Homo sapiens: one gene and its partners. The protein of the gene in region 2 purifies or fractionates together with the protein of the main gene of each other region. This does not show direct contact. Each region holds a gene or a part of one and is shown on either strand. Other genes may lie near its edges.

The links. Proteins that work in one complex are often made in the same cells at the same time.
Region 1: the proteins of CGNL1 (region 2) and HMMR purify together in Homo sapiens (affinity purification with mass spectrometry; 2 studies listed by BioGRID and IntAct, with this or other methods). This does not show direct contact.
Region 3: the proteins of CGNL1 (region 2) and NDE1 purify together in Homo sapiens (affinity purification with mass spectrometry; 2 studies listed by BioGRID and IntAct, with this or other methods). This does not show direct contact.

What each region holds. Positions count from the first base shown.
Region 1 is NC_000005.10:163,470,619-163,477,659, forward strand, and holds part of HMMR (hyaluronan mediated motility receptor), read left to right. Parts: intron 1-566; coding exon 567-653; intron 654-744; coding exon 745-845; intron 846-2,560; coding exon 2,561-2,635; intron 2,636-2,760; coding exon 2,761-2,939; intron 2,940-3,438; coding exon 3,439-3,587; intron 3,588-4,839; coding exon 4,840-5,054; intron 5,055-7,041. UniProt on the Homo sapiens protein: Receptor for hyaluronic acid (HA). Involved in cell motility. When hyaluronan binds to HMMR, the phosphorylation of a number of proteins, including PTK2/FAK1 occurs.
Region 2 is NC_000015.10:57,435,505-57,442,545, forward strand, and holds part of CGNL1 (cingulin-like protein 1), read left to right. Parts: intron 1-2,480; 5' UTR 2,481-2,495; coding exon 2,496-4,097; intron 4,098-4,872; coding exon 4,873-4,967; intron 4,968-6,868; coding exon 6,869-6,974; intron 6,975-7,041. UniProt on the Homo sapiens protein: May be involved in anchoring the apical junctional complex, especially tight junctions, to actin-based cytoskeletons.
Region 3 is NC_000016.10:15,653,232-15,660,272, reverse strand, and holds part of NDE1 (nuclear distribution protein nudE homolog 1), read right to left. Parts: intron 1-7,041. UniProt on the Homo sapiens protein: Required for centrosome duplication and formation and function of the mitotic spindle. Essential for the development of the cerebral cortex.

The sequences.
Region 1 (7,041 bases), on a different chromosome or scaffold from region 2:
CTGGGTGACAGAGTGAGACTCTGTCTTACAAAAATAAAATAAAAATAAACCAGCAAGTCACATTAAGGAAAAGAGGGATAAGAACAGTAGACTGGTACAGTGGCTCATGCCTGTATTTCCAGCATTTTGGAAGGCTGAGGGCTGGAGAATTGCTTGAGGCCAGGAGTTTGAGACCAGCCTGGGCAACATATCAAGACCCCATCTCTATAAACAAATTGAAAAATTAGCTAGGCATGGTGGTGGTGCACACCGGTAATCCCAGCTACTCAGGAAGATGAGGCAGGAGGATTGATTGAGCCCAGGAGTTTGAGATTATAGCGAGCTATGATCATGCCACTCCACTCTAGCCTGGACAGCGGAGCGAGACTTGATCTCTTAAAAAGAAAAGAAAAAAAAATTAAATCAATCAGTAATTATGGTGTAGGTCAAAGACTGTTCTCTCTACCAAAGTATATTAAAGTCAAAAACATAACCCCAGTGATAGGTAGAAAAATCAATATTTGTGTATTTTAAATATGTCTTAGCAGAAAATATTTCTGAATTTTTTACGTGTTTGTTGTATTTAGTTTTCTGAAAATGGTAACCAGAAGAATTTGAGAATTCTAAGCTTGGAGTTGATGAAACTTAGAAACAAAAGAGAAACAAAGATGAGGGTGAGTGCTGCCCTTGGCAGGTTTGCTGTGTCTGGATCTGGGGATCAGTACAACTTTCTCATTTCCTAAAACAGGTATCTTTGTTGTGTAGGGTATGATGGCTAAGCAAGAAGGCATGGAGATGAAGCTGCAGGTCACCCAAAGGAGTCTCGAAGAGTCTCAAGGGAAAATAGCCCAACTGGAGGGAAAACTGTAAGTGAGTGAATGTGAAGAGAAATTGTTAAGTGGAAGCAATTCTTGATTTGAGTCTCTTCACAAATTATTGTTTACTGAGACTTCAACCTTCTGTTAGTACTTATCTCATTGCCTCCCTCCAGTTGCCCTATTTCTCTTTTTAAACTAGAATGAGCCCTAATCATTCTCAAACATGTTGTGCTACAAAGTTGTATGAGTGCATTACTTTTGTACATCTTCTGTATTATTAATGATGAGGAAAGATTTCATGATCTTATGAAAGTGGTCATTAGATTGAAATTGAGAAACACTGGTATAGGAAATTGTGATTTATGCACAATCCTAGCCTTTGATTTTGAGCTTTAATATACATATAATAAAATGTGTGGATAGTAAGTATTCAGTTTGGTGACTTTAGCAATTGTATACACCTACGTAACCACTACCAAACAAGATAGAGAACATTTTCATCCCTTCAGAAAGTTCCTTCATACCCCTTCTTGTCCCCCTGCTACTGCCTATGTCATGTCCCCATCCCCATAACTACTTTCTCACTTACATCATCATAAATTAGCTTTGCCTTTTTTTATTTATTATTATTATTATTTATTTTTTTTTTTAGAGATGGGGCATTGCTTTGTTACTCAGGCTGGTCTCATACTCCTGGACTCAAGTGATACCACCCTGGCCTTCAGAGTGCTGGAGTTATAGACATGGGCCACTATACCTGGCCAGTTTTGCCTTTTTTTAGGACATGCAAAAGAGAAAGAGCATGTGTGTGTGTTGCTTCTTTTGTTTGATGTAATTTTTCAAGATTCATCCAAACCGTTCTGTATACTGTAATTTTTCCTATTTTATTTCTGAGTAGTGGTTCACCTTATGAATATACCTCCATCTCTTTACTCTTCTCCTTTTGATCATTATTTGGGCTGTTGCCAGTGTCTGCCATTAAAAAGACTGCTGTGAACATGTTTTATGTTTTTTTATGGACACGTTTTTATTTCTCAGAGAAATTTCTAGGAGTAGAATTCTTGGGTAATAGGGTAGTGTATATATAATGTTTTTTAAAACTCAGAAGTGTTTTTGCCATTTTTATACACCCCCTGGCAATGTATGATAGTTTCAGTTGTTCCAGATTCTCACCAACATTTAATGTTGTCAGTCTGTTTGATTTTAGCCTTTCTACTAGGTAGGAAGTGGTATCTCCTTTGTGATTTTAATTTGTTACCATGAATGTTGACCTTATTTTTATGTGCTTATTGACCATTTTATGTGCATATCACCTTTTGCAAGGTGTCTATTGAAGTCTTTTGTCCATTTCTTGCATTGGACAGTTTGGTGGAGGTAAACAGATAAGTAATTGAAGACCAGGTAGTCTGGGACAAAAGCTTTATGGGCACACAAAATGCTATTTAGTATGTTGGATGGGTGGGGAAACCAGGAAGACCACAAAAAGAATATTATTTCTAACACTTGGGATACTGTAATGATGGTTCTTGTCATCATAGGTTTTTTTGTCAGTATATATTCAGAAAACTTTCTCACTTAAATAAAAATTTTAGTCTTCTATTTTGATGTAAATTGTGAATTTGAGAAATTACATAAAATAATAGTTAAGAGTTAGGGCTCTGTAGTCAGCCTGCCTGATACAGGAGTATCTGGTACATAAGCATTATGTAAGATTATTAAATAACGAAACTAGAATGTATTAACATATGCAATTTTTGTTTTAGTGTTTCAATAGAGAAAGAAAAGATTGATGAAAAATCTGAAACAGAAAAACTCTTGGAATACATCGAAGAAATTAGGTAATATGAGCAGTAGCTTTAAATTGAACCTTATTTTTTTAATACTCAGTCATTTTCATCATTTTTCTGTTATTTTCCCTGTGCCTAAATAGATGTGCTTTTTAAGATAATTTGTTTTAATGCAGTTGTGCTTCAGATCAAGTGGAAAAATACAAGCTAGATATTGCCCAGTTAGAAGAAAATTTGAAAGAGAAGAATGATGAAATTTTAAGCCTTAAGCAGTCTCTTGAGGAGAATATTGTTATATTATCTAAACAAGTAGAAGATCTAAATGTGAAATGTCAGCTGCTTGAAAAAGAAAAAGGTATTACAGTGTTTTATAGTTACTTTGTTTAGATAAGTGTTACATACAACATTTAGGAAAAATACTACTATGCTAAAACAACCTTTTAAATATAATTAGCTATACTAACATTTTAAATATAATTAGCTATATAGCTATACAACAGCAAAAACCTGTACTGCATTTTAGAATATTTTACTCTTATAATGTTTGTTTTCTGTTTATTTCAATACAGCATATTACCTGTCTTGATTGAAATATATACAGTCATATAATTCTTGACTTTTCCACTAGGTGGCTGTGTAACAATCAGTAGATAACACAGAACAAGATTTGTGGGTTTTATTATTTAGCACATAGTATATATTACATGGAGTAATGATACAAAGTTCACAGTTTTGTTTTCTTCTTTGGAAATACCATGCTAAAAGCAGTGTAATGGAATATTATGGGAGTCCAGGTTTCTCAGTCTTAATGTTCTTATCTAATTCCAGTATTCTTGATGTTTTGCGTTTTCTAGAAGACCATGTCAACAGGAATAGAGAACACAACGAAAATCTAAATGCAGAGATGCAAAACTTAAAACAGAAGTTTATTCTTGAACAACAGGAACGTGAAAAGCTTCAACAAAAAGAATTACAAATTGATTCACTTCTGCAACAAGAGAAAGTAATTTACCACCATATTTTTTTAAACTGTTCATTTTGTGTCATACATTTCCCTATGTCTCTGAACACCTTTAAATTGTGTATATCCTTTGATCTACCAATTCTATCTTTAGAGTCTTATCCTGAGGACATAATCATGGATATGCTGAGGATTTAGCTACGTATTTTCACTACATGTTCACCCTAGGGTTATGAATAATGTGGGAAAATGACAACAGATACAGCAAAATAGGGAATTTTTAAAAAATTTTCTGGCTCATTCTTGTGTTATTTAGGCTATATAAACATTTACACTTACCTTGTAAAAGACTGTCTAATTACAGAAGAAACAAAGCAATTTTTAAAATCCAGATTATTTATAGAACATTTTACATATCAGTGAGAAGAAAGAAAGTCCACTGAAAAATTATGGGCATAGGATGGAAACAGAGAAGGAGAAGTTCTGGCCTGTAAATATAGAAAGATACTCCACCTTAGTAGTAACCAAGGAAGTAGAAATAATATTTTTTTCACTTACAAAATTGGCACAAATTAAAACATTTGATAACACAAAATACTGGTGAGAGTTAAGCCAACAGGTACTTACATGCACTGATGTGAAATATTATAGTGTTGGACAACCTACAACAGCTAAAGGAATTGAGTAGATCTATATACACTGACCTGGAAAGATTTCAGCAACAGAGTATATATCATTTATATCCCTCCCCAAATGTATATGTATATATAAGTGTAAAGAAAAATACCAGAAGGCATATATATTCCAAACTAGTAGCTATCTCTGCAATGGGAAAACTAAAATTAGGGGGGGAAGTCGTCAAAGATAATATTAACATCATTTGTAATGTTAGAATTATTTCACAATGGTGATGTATTTGTATATTGTATAGCTTAAAAAATAATTTTATGTAATATGGAAATCACCACACACTTTTTACATAATATGTGAAAAATAATGTTAATATCAAAGCCAGTTGTAAAACAGATATATATATATAAAATATAATTTTAGATTAAGAAGTTTCTGCATGTGCGTTGCATAGAAAAAAGCCTAAGATGATATTTGCCACAATGTTAACAAGGTATAGGAAATAATCTATGAAAACAAATATGCTATTTCTATATTGTTTTAAGTTTCCTTGAATCTGTTGAATTTAGGTTTCATCCTTCTTTATCTGTACTTTTTTTTGTCTCCTAGTACAACCTCACAATGCCATTCCAAATTATTTTGGTGGTTTTCTGTTTGGATATAGGAATTATCTTCGAGTCTTCATCAGAAGCTCTGTTCTTTTCAAGAGGAAATGGTTAAAGAGAAGAATCTGTTTGAGGAAGAATTAAAGCAAACACTGGATGAGCTTGATAAATTACAGCAAAAGGAGGAACAAGCTGAAAGGCTGGTCAAGCAATTGGAAGAGGAAGCAAAATCTAGAGCTGAAGAATTAAAACTCCTAGAAGAAAAGCTGAAAGGGTTTGTATTAATAGGATCTCATGTTTATGTATGACTTCAGATGTATTTATTTTGAGTACTTTTTTTAGTATTCTCTTATCAATCATGTGAGCGTGTTAGGTTGGAATTATTTTATAATTAAGTAGTAATTATTAATTATTTTACAATTAAGTAGTAGACACAGAATGTGAACACAAAATGTACATGCAAACAAGTAAGACAGCCCCCTCTTTTAAGTTAAAAGTTAAAGGTTTTGCCCCCTTTTTTTAAGGCCAAAGAGAGTTTAAATAAACAAATGACAAAAGTTTTACACTTCTTTACTACTCTGCTAATTTCTGAAATTTATTGAACATCAGCATTAGAACAATAATCAACTCAGGGCTGGATGTGGTGGCTGATGCCTGCAATTCCCATACTTTGGGATGCCAAGGTGAGAGGACTGCTTGAGCTCAGGAGTTTGAGACCAGCCTGTGCAATATAGTGAGACCTCGTCTCTACTAAAAATTAAAAAAAAAACTAGCTGGGCACGGTGGTGTGTGCCTGTAGTCCCAGCTACTTAGAAAGTTGTGGGAGGAGAATCACTTAAGCCCACGAGATTAAGGCTGCAGTTAGCCGTGATCACGTCACTGCACTCTAGCCTGAGCAACAGAGTGAGACTCTGTCTCAAAAACAAACAAAACACAATAATGAACTTGGGGGAAAAAAATAAAGAATCCCTCCCATTAATAAATAGCATTCCCATTTTTGTCTATGCACTTACATAGTGTAAGTTATACCTTTAATTACATTTTTCCGGGAGCACAAACACTTCAGAAATAGCAATCAAAATGCAAAGCAGGCTGGCACAATGGCACATGCCTAAAGTCCCAGCTACTCAGGAGGCTGAGATGGGAGGATCTTTAGAGCCCAGGAGTTTGAGGCTGTAATGCTCAACGATTATACCTGTTAATAGCCATGGCACTCTAGCCTGGGCAACGTAGCACAAGATGCCACCTCAATCAATAACTGATAAAAAGCAAATGAGAAAAAATAATTATAACTGGGAAACATTCAGAAGTAAGAAATCTCTTATTTACAGTAGAAAGACTGAAATCTTGGCTGGGTGCGGTGGCTCACACCTGTAATCCCACCACTTTGGGAAGCCAAGGCAGCGAGATCACAAGGTCAGGAGTTCGAGACCAGCCTGGCCAACATGGTGAAACCCCATCTCTACTAAAAATACATAGTAAATTAGCCTGGCATCGTGGCGCACGCCTGTAATCCCAGCTATTCAGGAGGCTGAGGCAGGAGAATTGCTTGAACCCAGGAGGCGGAGGTTGTGGTGAGCTGACATCGCACCACTGCACTCCAGCCTGGGCGACAGAGGGAGACTGTGTCCCAAAAACAAAAGAAAAACTGAAATCTCACTTTTTTCCCGAACTCTAGTTCCTTATAATTTCTGCCACATTATGTTTCCTTCTCCCATACACTTATTTATTTCATTTTGTTTTGTTTTGTCCATAGTAATTGCTAATTTTTTATTTATTAAGAGAAACTATTCCTTAGCCTACATATTCATATTTCATAGTTCAGGAACACAGGTTAGTGACAAACACTACTACATTTATTTAAATTAAAAAGTCTGATTTGATTCTTGAGTTCAAATTGCAAATATTTAAATCCTTGGGATCTGATCATTAAAACACTTGTTGTCAAAGGACTGTGGGCTAGATATGAGTTTGTATTATTGTAATATATCTCACACCTGTGTATCTGTCTCAGTGGATACTTTTGTTATTAATCTTTTCTGTTTTCTTATGATTAGTGATGCAAATGAACAGCAAGGTTTTTCATATCCCTGCTTTTGGGGGAACAATACAAAATTGTAATTAGGGGTGTTGTTCTATACTACAGCCAATCTCAGGGAACAGGAATCTTGGGAAAATAAGATAATGTCATTTTAAGAGAGGAAAGAAAATTGAGATAATTTTTTATTCCAACTCAAAAAACTGTGGTCCAATGGTCAAGA
Region 2 (7,041 bases):
AAAATAAATTATTTAAAAATACTAGTATAACTGAAAATGAAAGTTGACAATGAAATATTTGGAATTGGTGAGATAATGATAAATATTACAGATGAATGTACCTCTCTGAGTTGTTCCTATCTTTAAAGTGGTAAATGATAGTAGCTAAAATGTTTGAGATTTAAAAGAATTATCACCAAGCAAAACTGACAACACTATGCTACTGGTAGGAAACTGAATATATTCAGAAAGCCCCAAGACAGAACAGAGAGACAAAACAAGTAAAGATGTGCTAGAGCCAAACAACATAATTATTAAGGTTGTACAGATGGATAGATTTTGAATGTTATCCCTTAAAATGGAGACTACACCTAGTACCTGTGAAGCATTGACAAACATTATCCGTATATTTGCTCACAGAGGGAAGCTCAATATATTTAAAAAGGAAGAAATGGTAGAGACTTCATTTTCTGACCACAATACAGGTAGAGATTAGCAACATTTACAAATAAAGACCCTCCAAACAAAAACAGCACAGCAACAAAATACTACATATGCAACAACTTTCTCAGAATCAAATCTTGGGTCAAAGCAGAAATCAAAACCCCAAAGAGAAACTATCTAGAAAATAGTAATAGAAACATTACTGTGGTGGAAACTGTTTACTGCCTTTCTAAAGTCCATTCTCCTCTCTCTTTTTACTAACAGAACATTGATTTTGTTGCATGTTGATGACCAGCTTAAGTACCCTATTTTCCAGTCTCCCTTGCGGCTGGGGGTGGCCATATGATTAAGTTCTCACTAATAAGATATAAGGGATTATTGTTAGGTGGGGATTCCAGGAAAGCTATTTAAAAAGAAGGTTGAGTCACTTGGCCTAAGCTTTTGGGCTATGTGATGCTGGATCAGCTATCTTGTAATCATAATCATAAGCTATCTTTAATCACATGTTAAAGACAGATGAGTGGAAAGATAGAAGGGGTGCTCCTTATCCCAGGGTCTCTTTCAGTCCTAGACTTCCTATCTCTGGGGAAAAGTTCCTGTCTTAAGCTGCTATGTGGGGAGTCTATTAGTAGGAACTGACATAATTTTTAAGTGACATAGTTACAAACCACAATTTATGTGATTAAAGAATGAAAATAAACAAGTAAAGCGTCCAAGTCAAGGAGTCAGAAATAGAACAACAAAATAAAACAAAGGAAAGTGGAAGGAAATAATAAAAATCAAACTAGAACTCAGTAAAGTTGAAAATTAAAGAAAAAAATGCTTGATAAATCCAGGAGCTAGTTCTTTAGGGAAACAATTTAAAAAAATACATACACATATATATTCTACCAGTGTAATCAAGAAATAGAAGAAAACACAACATTAGATAATAAATGATTTATCCTACCCAAATTCTGCAAATAAATTTGAAAATTGGATGGAATAGATGATTTTCTTGGAAAATGTGCTAGTAGATTGACTCTAGAATAGAAAGAAAACTCAAAAAGTCTCTCAAAAGTGGAAAAAAAAAAAGACAACTGTTATTTGTGACCAGTTGCTACTGTTCTTCCTGGAGTCCCTTTGCCATTGCTGTTTTGCAAAGTGTTAGAAGTGAATTTCTGGTGAGGAACCTCGGAGTGTGAGGCAGGGTGAGCATCCTGCTTGGTGAGCTCTCTGCAGTCATCTGGCAAGGTTGGCCACACACCAGAAAGGCAACGGCAACTATTCTTGGCATCAGGACCCATCACAAAACACAGAGCCCTGAGTGTTCTTCATTTTTTAAATAATATTTTCCAGATCAATATGCTATTGAACTTTTTTGCTAAGAAGAAAAGATTGAAAATGATTTATAATCATTTAATTTCACTGTCAGTCTCACAAACAACTGATTCCTTATGGTAAAAGTGTTGGAAACATTATATTCAAATAGTAGTGTTAAAGATTTTGCAGCAAGATTGTGGGTAAAAAAGGCTGAAAGTGTTTTGAGAGGAAAATGAACTGCAGAGTAACAAAGAAAAATGGTGAGCGTCAGAATTCCTTAGCTCTTAATTATTTTCATGGAAAAGTACCTAGTTCTCAAATGCTGGTAACTGGAACATCCTATTGGTTAAAAATAAACAGCATAAAGTTTCAGGAAACCAACTAAACAGCAAAAAAAAAAAAAAAAAAAAAAAAAAAAAAGGCAACCAGAACAGCCCAAAACAGAATAACAAAGTCAGAATAATGAAGCTACGCCAAAAGTGTCAGGTCATTACACGGGTTGTCTGCCCTCAGGCCAGGGTTCAAACCCAGTGGTGACAAACTCAGTGGCCACGTGGGCTGAAGGGCATCCAGAAAGTCCTGCTGGGTCACCAGAGGGCTGCCCTTCAGCACTTGGTTCTGAGGTGTCTTTGCTGTTTAAAATGTCTTGTTTTCTTTGAACTTTGAAGTTTCCCCTTCCTAATTATTTCAGTCTTCATTTAAACAGATGTAATTCTAACCTAATGTCCTCTTTTTACCCCATCTCTCCCTGGTAGCTGGAACAGTGAACCATGGAGCTGTATTTCGGTGAATATCAACATGTGCAGCAGGAATATGGGGTCCATCTGAGACTCGCAAGTGATGATACCCAAAAATCAAGGAGTTCCCAGAACTCCAAGGCAGGCTCCTACGGTGTCAGTATTCGGGTCCAGGGAATTGATGGTCACCCCTATATTGTCCTGAATAACACAGAACGGTGCCTAGCAGGCACATCGTTTTCTGAAAATGGGCCACCCTTTCCACCTCCAGTGATAAATAACCTGCCTCTACATTCCAGCAATGGTTCTGTGCCAAAGGAGAACAGTGAAGAACTTCAGCTTCCAGAAAACCCATACGCCCAGCCTAGCCCAATAAGAAACCTGAAACAGCCCCTGCTCCATGAGGGCAAGAATGGAGTTCTAGATCGCAAAGACGGGTCTGTGAAGCCATCTCACCTGCTGAACTTTCAGAGGCATCCAGAGCTTTTGCAACCCTATGACCCTGAAAAGAATGAGTTGAATTTACAAAATCACCAGCCTTCTGAGAGTAATTGGCTAAAAACGTTGACAGAAGAAGGCATCAACAATAAGAAGCCTTGGACTTGCTTTCCCAAACCTAGCAATTCCCAGCCTACCAGTCCCTCCTTGGAAGACCCGGCCAAATCTGGTGTGACAGCTATTCGTTTATGCAGCTCCGTGGTCATAGAGGACCCCAAAAAGCAGACCTCAGTGTGTGTAAACGTTCAGAGCTGCACCAAGGAGAGGGTGGGAGAGGAGGCCCTTTTCACTAGCGGGAGGCCCCTGACTGCCCACAGCCCACATGCCCACCCTGAAACCAAGAAAACCAGGCCAGATGTTCTTCCCTTCCGGCGACAGGATTCAGCGGGACCCGTCCTGGATGGAGCTCGGTCCCGGAGGTCCTCCTCGTCATCCACAACTCCCACGTCAGCCAACTCTTTGTACAGGTTTTTACTGGATGATCAGGAATGTGCCATCCATGCCGACAACGTCAATCGTCATGAAAACAGAAGGTATATTCCCTTCCTGCCAGGAACTGGACGGGATATTGATACAGGATCAATTCCTGGTGTGGATCAGTTAATTGAAAAATTTGATCAAAAACCTGGGCTTCAGAGAAGAGGAAGGTCTGGGAAGCGAAACAGAATTAATACAGATGACAGGAAAAGATCCAGAAGCGTGGATAGCGCCTTTCCTTTTGGCCTCCAAGGGAACTCGGAGTACCTGATTGAATTCAGTAGGAACTTGGGCAAGTCAAGCGAACACCTCCTCCGGCCTTCCCAGGTGTGCCCGCAGCGGCCACTGTCTCAGGAGCGCCGTGGGAAACAGAGCGTGGGCCGCACCTTTGCAAAGCTGCAGGGAGCAGCGCACGGGGCTTCATGTGCCCACTCCAGGCCTCCCCAGCCGAACATAGATGGGAAAGTTCTGGAAACCGAAGGTAGTCAGGAAAGTACAGTGATCCGTGCGCCCTCCCTTGGTGCACAGAGTAAAAAGGAGGAGGAGGTGAAAACAGCCACCGCTACGCTGATGTTACAGAACCGGGCAACAGCAACTTCGCCTGATTCTGGTGCCAAGAAAATTTCCGTGAAGACATTTCCTTCGGCCTCAAATACTCAGGTAACACTAGTGCGATTCCTGTTTGGTTTTTTTTCTCTTCCTTCTAAATAATGTAATGATGTACTTATGCTGCAGGAGGCCATAGGAATTACACATCCTCAATCTTGTATCAGGAATCACACAGCTGATCTGTTTCAGGATCCAGTTGTGTCCTACTGACGATGTCCTACTGCCAATTGTATAGTTTTCTGGGTTCTTTGAAGTTCAGCTGGATTCCCATTGTGATCTCTCTGTAAAGTAACTTGGCAGACGCTACAGAGAGGCTCAATTGTTCTGTTTGTGTATGCATGAAATCTGAAAGTATGCAGAATTTGTTTCTACACAGAGGCTGAATAGTTAGGTTTGTGTAGGTATATTAATTTTCCTCATAAAATTGAGTGACTGGGTTAATTTCTAGCCTGAAAAATTAGGTTAATTTTCATTTAGGTTAATTGTCAAGTGAGAATCTAAGTGGCACATTTAGTGTTTTGATAGTAACAATAAAAAATAATGATATTGATAAAATGGTAAAAAAAAAAAAAAAGTAGCTAAGTGCTAGGCACTGTTTGTTATATATTACAGGATTGCACCAACCCTGTGCAGGTAGTACCTATTAACCTCAATTTACAGGTGAGAAAATTGAGGCGAGGAGAAGTTAAGTAACTTCCCCAAGATTATGAAGCTGGTAAATGTTGTAACTGGCTCTAAGAAGGATGCTCACTGGAGGAATTGTTTGGTGTTTGGAAGCCTCTGGGAACTTCATCCTCATGGTCTAACAACAGGCCTTATGTTCCAGGCCACACCGGATCTCTTAAAGGGCCAGCAAGAGCTCACTCAGCAAACCAATGAGGAGACAGCTAAGCAGATTCTCTACAATTACCTCAAAGAAGGGTTAGTGATTTTCCCTCTGAAAGAGCAAAGTATTGTTGTTTCTGGTGGGACTCTTAATTTCCTTTTCCGAGGCTTTAATGGTTACCTTCCTTTCTTGCCCTGTGCCAGCCGTTGGAGGGTTAAAACTCAATGGCTGGGGTTTTCGTGACGGCATTTGTCTTGTGTGGTATGGGGTGGGGGCTTTGGGAGGGGTGTGTAGGAAAGGACACCATACTTTAAAAATTAAAATGAATACATTTTTAAAGTGACCCTTTACTATTTCAAAAGCAAATTCAAAGATAGGAGGAGTTTCTACTCTTCAGGTTTGAATGGAGTCCGCCATCACCTTGAGTTCTTCCGTGCAATGTGGTAGTCCTTTAGAAGTTACAAATAAAAACACCTCCCCTCCCCAGAGTTAACATTGGCCAAGAGCCCCTGCTTCCATTATTTTTAAAGCATGTGTGAGTCATTTAAAAGCAGTGCTTTCCATGCTTATCTTGGTGGTTGAGGTGGAATAATCAGGGTTTCAGCCCTTACTTAGATACTAACTGTGCTGGAACTTGAGCAAGGAATTTGAGGTTTCTGTTTCAGTTCTCTCAACAGATGTGATTAAGAGGAAGGACAAAAAAAAAAAAAAAAGCTTTACAGCCTACATGACTGAAAACCAGCCACTTGGCAAATCCTCATTGGTATCAAAATACTGTATATTTTTGTATTGTGCCTTACAATTATTTGTCAGTTTTAGAGCTAACAACATAGTAAGGCTCAAAATATAAAACAGGGGATCTTTTGAAAGGGGGAAAAAAAAAGTAACCTGAAAGATTAATCTAGCTAAGAACTGGTTATTAGTATCTCCCTGTGGAAGACTTTACCATGTTAAGATTAAGGTAGAAGAAATCTTGACTTTTAAAATTCATTATTTTTTTTTTATTTTTTGGGACAGAGTCTCACTCTGTCATCCAGGCTGGAATGCGGTGGCATGATCTTGGCTCACTGCAACCCCCACCTCCCAGGTTCAAGAGATTCTCCTGCCTCAGCCACCTGAGTAGCTGGGATTATAGGTGTGCGCCACCATGTCTGGCTAATTTTTGTATTTTTAGTAGAGACACAGTTTCATCATATTGGCAAGGATAATCTCAAACTCCTGACCTCAAGTGATCCACCAGCATCTGCCTCCCAAAGTGCTGAGATGACAGACGTGAGCCACCGCACCTGGCCAAAATTCATTAAATTCTTTTATGTATGTATTTTTTGGCACATGATTTATTGAGACATTGGTAAGACAGACTTTAGTGGGAGGTGCCTGTTGAAGGAAGTTTATTTTAAATCTTTTTCTTCTAATTGCTGACGGTGTGGTAGAAGTTAATAAAACTTAGTATCTCCGTGTTACCTGTGAAAGCCCAGACAAAGGGCTGCCATGCTGATAATCTTGGCTTAGGGGTTTTATTTTTTTAAACATAGGTTAAACAAATTAAGATCATTGTAGATCATTCTTAGTGTAAGATTCAGATGTACAGCATGTTTGTGTGTGTGAGAGAGATATACACATACGCACTTCAAAGAAAAGGAGAATTCTTTTTGGAATGGACATGAGCATTTGAATCAAACAACAAATTACTAAATGTTCACTGGGTGTCTTCTCCAAGCTTACTGAGGATGTGTTTATGTGCCTCTCACATATTTGCAAGTGGGAACCCTGTCCCAAATTGAGTGGTAACACATCATTTATTTGAAAAAAAAAAAAAAAAAAAAAGACACCATCCATCCTACTCTCACACTGATTTTGTCTGAGGCTTTAATTAATTCACAGCTCCTGCAAATTATCTCCTTAAAGGACCTGTTGGGTGTGTGTCATGACATATAAATTGTTCTGAGACCAGTGGTTGTGTCCCTCATTGTTTTCTCTGCTGTCCCTTTTTCAGAAGCACTGATAATGACGATGCTACTAAAAGGAAAGTCAACTTGGTCTTTGAGAAAATCCAGACCTTAAAGTCTCGAGCAGCTGGGAGCGCCCAAGGAAATAACCAAGTAAATGGAAGTTTTGTATTTTGTAGAGTGCATTTAGCATGGAATGTGGTAAACAACTTGCTGTTTC
Region 3 (7,041 bases), on a different chromosome or scaffold from region 2:
TTCCTGGGCTCAAGCGATCCTCCTGCCTTGTACTCCCAAAGCACTAGGATTCTAGGTGTGAGCCACCACACCCAGCAAGAAAGCAGACTTCTATTAACAGTTGGGCTAACGGTTTGTATACTCCCTGTTGATAGAGGCTGTTTGATGTAATCACCTATTTTCTGAATTTATTTGAGGCTCTGAGCTTGTCAAAAGGGCATGAGGAATCCAAGTAAGATTGTGTCCAGGCCAGACTCAGTGGCTCGCATCTGTAATCCCAGCACTTTGGGAGGCCGAGGCGGGCAGATCACAAGGTCAGGAGTTTGAGACCAGCCTGGCCAATATGGTGAAACCCCATCTCTACTAAAAATACAAAAATTAGGCGGGCGCAGTGGCAGGTACCTGTAGTCCCAGCTACTCAGGCGGCTAAGGCAGGAGAATTGCTTGAACCCAGGAGGTGGAGGTTGCAATGAGCTGAGATCGTGCCACTGCACTCCAGCCTGAGTGACAGAGCGAGACTCCGTCTCAAAAAAAAAAAAAAAAAAGATTGTGTCCAAGGCCGGGCGCAGTGGCTCACACCTGTAATCCCAGTACTTTGGGAGGCCAGGGCAGGTGAATCACCTGAGCTCAGGAGTCTGAAACCAGCCTGGCCAACACACTGAAACCCCATCTCTACTAAAAATATAAAAATTAGCCGGGCATGGTGGTGTGCGCCTGTAATCCCCACTACTCGGGAGGCTGAGGCGGGAGAATCACTTGAACCCAGAAGGCAGAGGTTGTAGTGAGCCGAGATCGCACCACTGCACTCCAGCCTGGGTGACAGAGTGAGACTTCCTCTCAAAAAAAAAAAAAAAAAAAAAAAAAAAAAGATTGTGTGCAAGGTCCCTTCCTTCCCTCAAGAGAACTTAGAGGCTGGTGTGTATCCCTGGGGACAAAAGAATGAGCAAAAACCATCACTTTCTAAGATATAACCAACAAGCTATATAGTTTTGGTTAAAACATGAAATCATTAGGCTAAACATGTAAGTGTCAACACAGACACCACCACTAACTTCTGGTGGAAGTTAGTGAGCCTCACCCATGTTGAGCCAATGACAGAGGTGGGCCTAATTCATGCAGAACCAGGAAATGCACAATTGTACCTAGATTCAAGCACAAAACTTACCGATAACTCTGCATTTGTTGGGACTCATATTCACATCCTTTCTCCCTCCTACTTTTTCAATCCTTTCCCTCATTCAGAGAAAACATGCTATTTCCCGACCCACTCATCCCTCTGGAAAGCAGATTCTCTGAAAGTTTGATCAAGGCAGAAAGGCGAAATGTCATACAAAGCTGGCCAGACGTGGTGGCTCATGCCTGTAATCTCAACACTTTGGGAAGCTGAGGCAGGCAGATGACTTGAGGTCAAGAGTTCAAGACAAGCTTGGCCAACATGGTAAAATCCTGTCTACACTAAAAGCACAAAAATTAGCTGGGTGTGGTGGCAGGCACCTATGATCCCAACTACTCGGGAGGCTAAGGCATGAGAATCGCTTGAACCCGGGAGCCAGAGGTTGCAGTGAACCACGATCACACCACTGCACTCCAGCCTGGGCAACAGAGCAAGACTCCATTTCAAAAACATATAAACAAAAAATAAATAAATGTCATATAAAGCTAATGATTTGTAGTTTTGCTTGTTTTTTCCAGACATGCATTCATTTTTCCATCTTCTGTGACAGCACAATATTCCCTTGGGAGAATACCCTACTCATTTCATGAGTTCAGAGGGATCTGACATCATCCTCCACACCTGGGAAGAGGCATATGCCTATTCACGACCTTAGTGATCAGCTCATGGGTGGGCCTAACCCACGATGAGCCAGTGACAGAGGTGGGCCTAATTCACGCAGAGCCAATGATAGGGTGAGCCTAACCCCCATGCTCAGCCAGTGACAGTCACGGATCTAACCCATGCTGAGCCAATGATTGGCTTAAGGATGGGCCTAACCCATACTAAGCCAGTGAGGGCCCAGGTCCAGACCTTTTGCATAGCTGTCAAAAATGAAACTCTCTTTCCACTAGGGTTGGTAAGGTAAGCCTGAAGCTGGAGGTAAGCCTGAAGCCGGAGGTAAGCCTGAAACTGCCGGTGGTCATCTTGCTATCACAAGGGAGAGCCTGCCTCAGAGTGAAGCCAAAACAGAGGAAAGCTGGGCCAAGGGATGGAGAGCCTGGGTCCTGACAATATCATTTGAACACCTAGATGCAGCCACACCTGATTTAAGGTTATGAGATAATCAATTCCTTGTCTTGGTTATACCAGTTGGGGTTAGATTTCTGCCACGCAGGAATCTTAATGAATGTATGGAATCAACGACCTTACTTGCTCAAAGTCAAAAGGGTAGAGTGGTGCCTGGCGCAATGGCTCATGCCTGTAATCCCAGCCCTTTGTGAGGCCGAGGCAGACAGATCACTTGAGGTCAGGAGTTTGAGACCAGCCTGGGCAACATGGTGAAACCCCGTGTCTACTAAAAAAACAAAAACAAAAATCAAACGGGCACGGCGGTGCGTGCCTGTAGTCCCAGCTACTCAGAAGGATGAAGCAGGAAAAATCACTTAAGCCTGAGAAGCGGAGGCTGCAGTGAGCCAAGATCACTGCATTCCAGCCTCCCAGCCTGGGCGACAGAACAAGACCCCATCTCAAAAAAATAAAAAGGGGGTAGAGTGTTAATAGCAGTCATTAACAAGGCCAGGAGCAGCATAAACCTAGGCCAAGGAGTCCCTGCTCAAGCCATAAGCTCTAATGAGCCCAGATCTCATGTAATATGTACTCATCAAACCAATTCTATAGCAACAATAGCCCAGGGCCAAGGCATCTATCAATGAGCACTGTGTGGCCATTAAGATATTGGTGGCTGGGTGCGTTGGCTCATGCCTGTAATCCCAACACTTTGGGAAGCCAAGGCGGGTGGTTCACCTGAGGTCAGGAGTTCAAGACCAGCCTGGCCAACATGGTGAAACTCCATTTCCACTAAAAATACAAGAAATTAGCCAGGTGTGGTGGCAGGCTCCTGTAACCCCAGCTACTCGGAAGACTGAGGCAGGAAAATCGCTTGAACCCAGGAGGCGGAGGTTGCAGTGAGCCAAGATCACGCCATTGCACTCCAACCTGGACGACAAGAGTGAAACTCTGCCTCAAAAAAAAAAAACAAAAAAAGACATTGGTGATACTATTGAGGGCAGTCTCAGTCCCATGGTATGGAAGGTTGTCAGCATACAATAAAGTGCGGAAGTGAGGAACCAGTAACAACAAAAGCAGAATGACTCCTCCTGAGGTTTGGAAAAAGATGTGCAAGATCCAATGTGATCAGGCCCCTGCATAGTTTTCTACACATTTCTTACCCTACCACCTCTCATTCACTTATGTCCCAGCCACACTGCCTTCTTTCTCTTCCTTGAACACCCAAGCCTGGCAGGGTGCTGTGGCTCATGCCTGTAATCCTGATACTTTGGGAGGCCACAGCGGGTAGATCACTTGAAGCCAGGAGTTCGAGACCAGCCTGGCCAACATGGTAAAACCCCATCTCTGCTAAAAATACAAAAATTAGCTGGGCATGGTGGCACATGCCTGTAATCCCATCTACTCAGGAGGCTGAAACAGAAGAAACTCTTGAACCCGGGAGGTGGAGGTTCCAGTGAGCAGAGATCCTGCCACTGCACTCCAGCCTGGGTGACAGAGCAAGACTCCATCTCAAAAAAAGAAAAGAGTAATAATAATAATAATAATAATAAAAGAAAAGAGCCTCTTAAAACACTGTTATCTTGGCCAGGAAGGTTTAAAAACTTAATCCTCAGGAAAGAAATGAATCTGAGATGCTTTAGGAGGTGCGTCTATTGTGGGGCAGGTTCTAATTACAACGGGCCAATGGGAGGGATCTGGTTTTGGATTTCAAGGACTGAGGAGAAAATAAGCAGAGAACTGGATTTGTATCACAGCCTGCAAAATCTTTCACTCCAACCAAGAGACAAAAACCACAGGAACAGCATTTCAACCAAAAACTCTTACATTTTAAAAGCAATCCTTAGGGAAGAGAGATGCTGGAAGCAAAGAAGGAAGAAGTAACAGCTGCACTTCACTTTATCATAAAACAGCAATCTTTTTTTTTCTTTTTCTTTATTATTATTATACTTTAAGTTTTAGGGTACATGTGCACAATGTGCAGGTTAGTTACATATGTATACATGTGCCATGCTGGTGTGCTGCACCCACTAACTCGTCATCTAGCATTAGGTATATCTCCCAATGCTATCCCTCCCCCCTCCCCCCACCCCACAACAGTCCCCAGAGTGTGATGTTCCCCTTCCTGTGTCCATGTGTTCTCGTTGTTCAATTCCCACCTATGAGTGAGAATATGCGGTGTTTGGTTTTTTGTTCTTGCAATAGTTTACTGAGAATGATGATTTCCAATTTCATCCATGTCCCTACAAAGGACATGAACTCATCATTTTTTATGGCTGCATAGTATTCCATGGTGTATATGTGCCACGTTTTCTTAATCCAGTCTATCATTGCTGGACATTTGGGTTGGTTCCAAGTCTTTGCTATTGTGAATAATGCCGCAATAAACATACGTGTGCATGTGTCTTTATAGAAGCATGATTTATAGTCCTTTGGGTATATACCCAGTAATGCGATGGCTGGGTCAAATGGTATTTCCAGTTCTAGATCCCTGAGGAATCACCACACTGACTTCTACAATGGTTGAACTAGTTTACAGTCCCACCAACAGTGTAAAAGTGTTCCTATTTCTCCACATCCTTAAAAGTATAAGATTTTTGCCTTTGCCATTCAAAAATGTCAGAGAGAGGCCGGGCACGATGGCTCACGCCTGTAATCCCAGCACTTTGGCAGACTGAGGTGGGCAGATTGCTTGAGCCCAGGAGTTTGAGACCAGCACAAGGTGAACCCCGTCTCTACTAAAAATACACAAATCAGCAGGGCGTCACGATGCACGCCTGTAGTCCCAGCACTTTGGGAGGCTGAGGTGGGTGGATTGCTTGAGCCCAGGGGTTCAAGACCAGCCTGGGCAACATGGTGAAACCCTGTCTCTACTAGAAACACAAAAATTAGCCAGGTGTGGTAGAGCGCACCTATAATTCCAGCTACTTGGGTGGCTGAGGCCCAAGAATTGCTTGAACCCAGAGGCAGAGGTTGCAGTGAGCAGAAATTGTACCACTGCACTCCAGCCTGGGCACAAGAGCAAGACTCTGTCTCAAAAAATAAATAAATAAACAACATGAAAACGTCAGAAAGTTCTATTGCAGTACTCTCTGTGGCAGAAAGCAGGCAACATGACTTGCAAGGGTTCTCTTATTTTATCAGCATTAAGTACTGAATTTGACCTTCTGTTTGCTGTGTGCTAGACATTTCAAAAATTGTTTGCAAACATTATCTTCTTTAAGCTGTGTGACTGTAAGAGATGGCTAAACAGGACAACCACTCTGTTTCTTGGAAGCAGAAACACCGTATGCCTTGGCCATCTCTAAATGTGCATGTGAGCAGCAGAGGCAAACTAGATCCAAGTTCAAGGGATCTTTGCATTCAAGTCCAAGGCTTCCCAGGGGTTGCAAACTGACTGACTGCAGATCAGATTCACTTGTTTCATTTGGTCCAGTTTTGTTTTTTTTTTTTTTGTTTTTTTTTTTTTTGAGTCGGAATCTCTTTCTCTGTTGCCCAGGCTGGAGTGCAGTGGTGTGATCTCAGCTCACTGCAACCTCTGCCTCGCAGCTTCAAGCGATTCTCCTACCTCAGCGTCCCTAGTACCTCGGATTACAGGTGCATGCCACCACGACTGGCTAATTTTTTGTATTTTTAGGAGAGACGGGGTTTCGCCACGTTGGCCAGGCTGGTCTCGATCTCCTGACCTCAGGTGATCTGCCCACCTAGGCCTCCCAAAGTGCTGGGATTACAGGTGTGAGCCATTGCACCCGGCCCTCACATAGTGTTTTAAAAGGCACTGTAATAGGCAAGTGTTAATGCCTGGTCTCAGTATATACAACTTTGCACCTGCTATCTTAAAAATGCACCCCACATGCATTTATTTCATCTGTGTGCCACTAACCTGCGTTCTTAATACGCCACCACACCATCATGCCCCAGCAGCTCTGTAGACAAATCTGATGGGATCATGCAAGGAACAATGACAAACTAGGACCCAGTGGTACAAAAAGTATCTATTTTGCACAACAGAGATCTATGCCTCCTTCAAAAATTTGTTTCCGGCCGGGTGTGGTGGCTCATGCCTGTAATCCCAGCACTTTGGGAGGGTGAGGCAGGCAGATCACCTGAGGTCAGCAGATAAGAGACCAGCCTGGGCAACATGGTGAAACCCCATCTCTACCAAAAACACAAAAAAATTAGCCAGGTGTGGTGATGCACACCTGTGGTCCCAGCTACTCAGGAGGCTGAGGTGGGAGGATCACTTGAGCATGGGAGGCGGTGGTTGCAGTGAGCCGAGATCGCCCCACAGCACTCCAGCCTGTGTGACAGAGCGAGAACCCGTCTCAAAAAAAAAAAATTGTTTCCACATGCTTTTTTTTTTTTTGCATGTTTTACATGATTAAAGCTAACAAAAAAGTCTGAAAATACACTCGAGACACACACCTCTGATTTTAAAACTCTGGAAAAAAGCAAAGCAATCTCTTTCAGCTTTCCTCTGAGAGAAGAAACCCAGCACTGCTAGTCAGGAGCAATAAACATACAGAAACCATCGATAATTACTCAACACCCTTCTCCATCCCCACTCCATATCCTTCCCAATCAAAACAAACAGAAGAGCAGGAGGGAAGAGAAAGAAGCTGCCAAATGTCCACACATGCTCCGACAGCCAGGACGCAGGCTTTGCATTTTGCAGGAGTGACATCACTGGGGCAACATCAGTCAAGAGTCAGCAAGCCTGGCTTCTGTCTTTGTGCTTTCCAAGTTTACAATGATCAACCTACAAAAATACTTAGGCAGGCAAGGACCCATGTTCAAAGATGCACACCATCATTCACGAATGTGGAAAACTGGAAACCTCA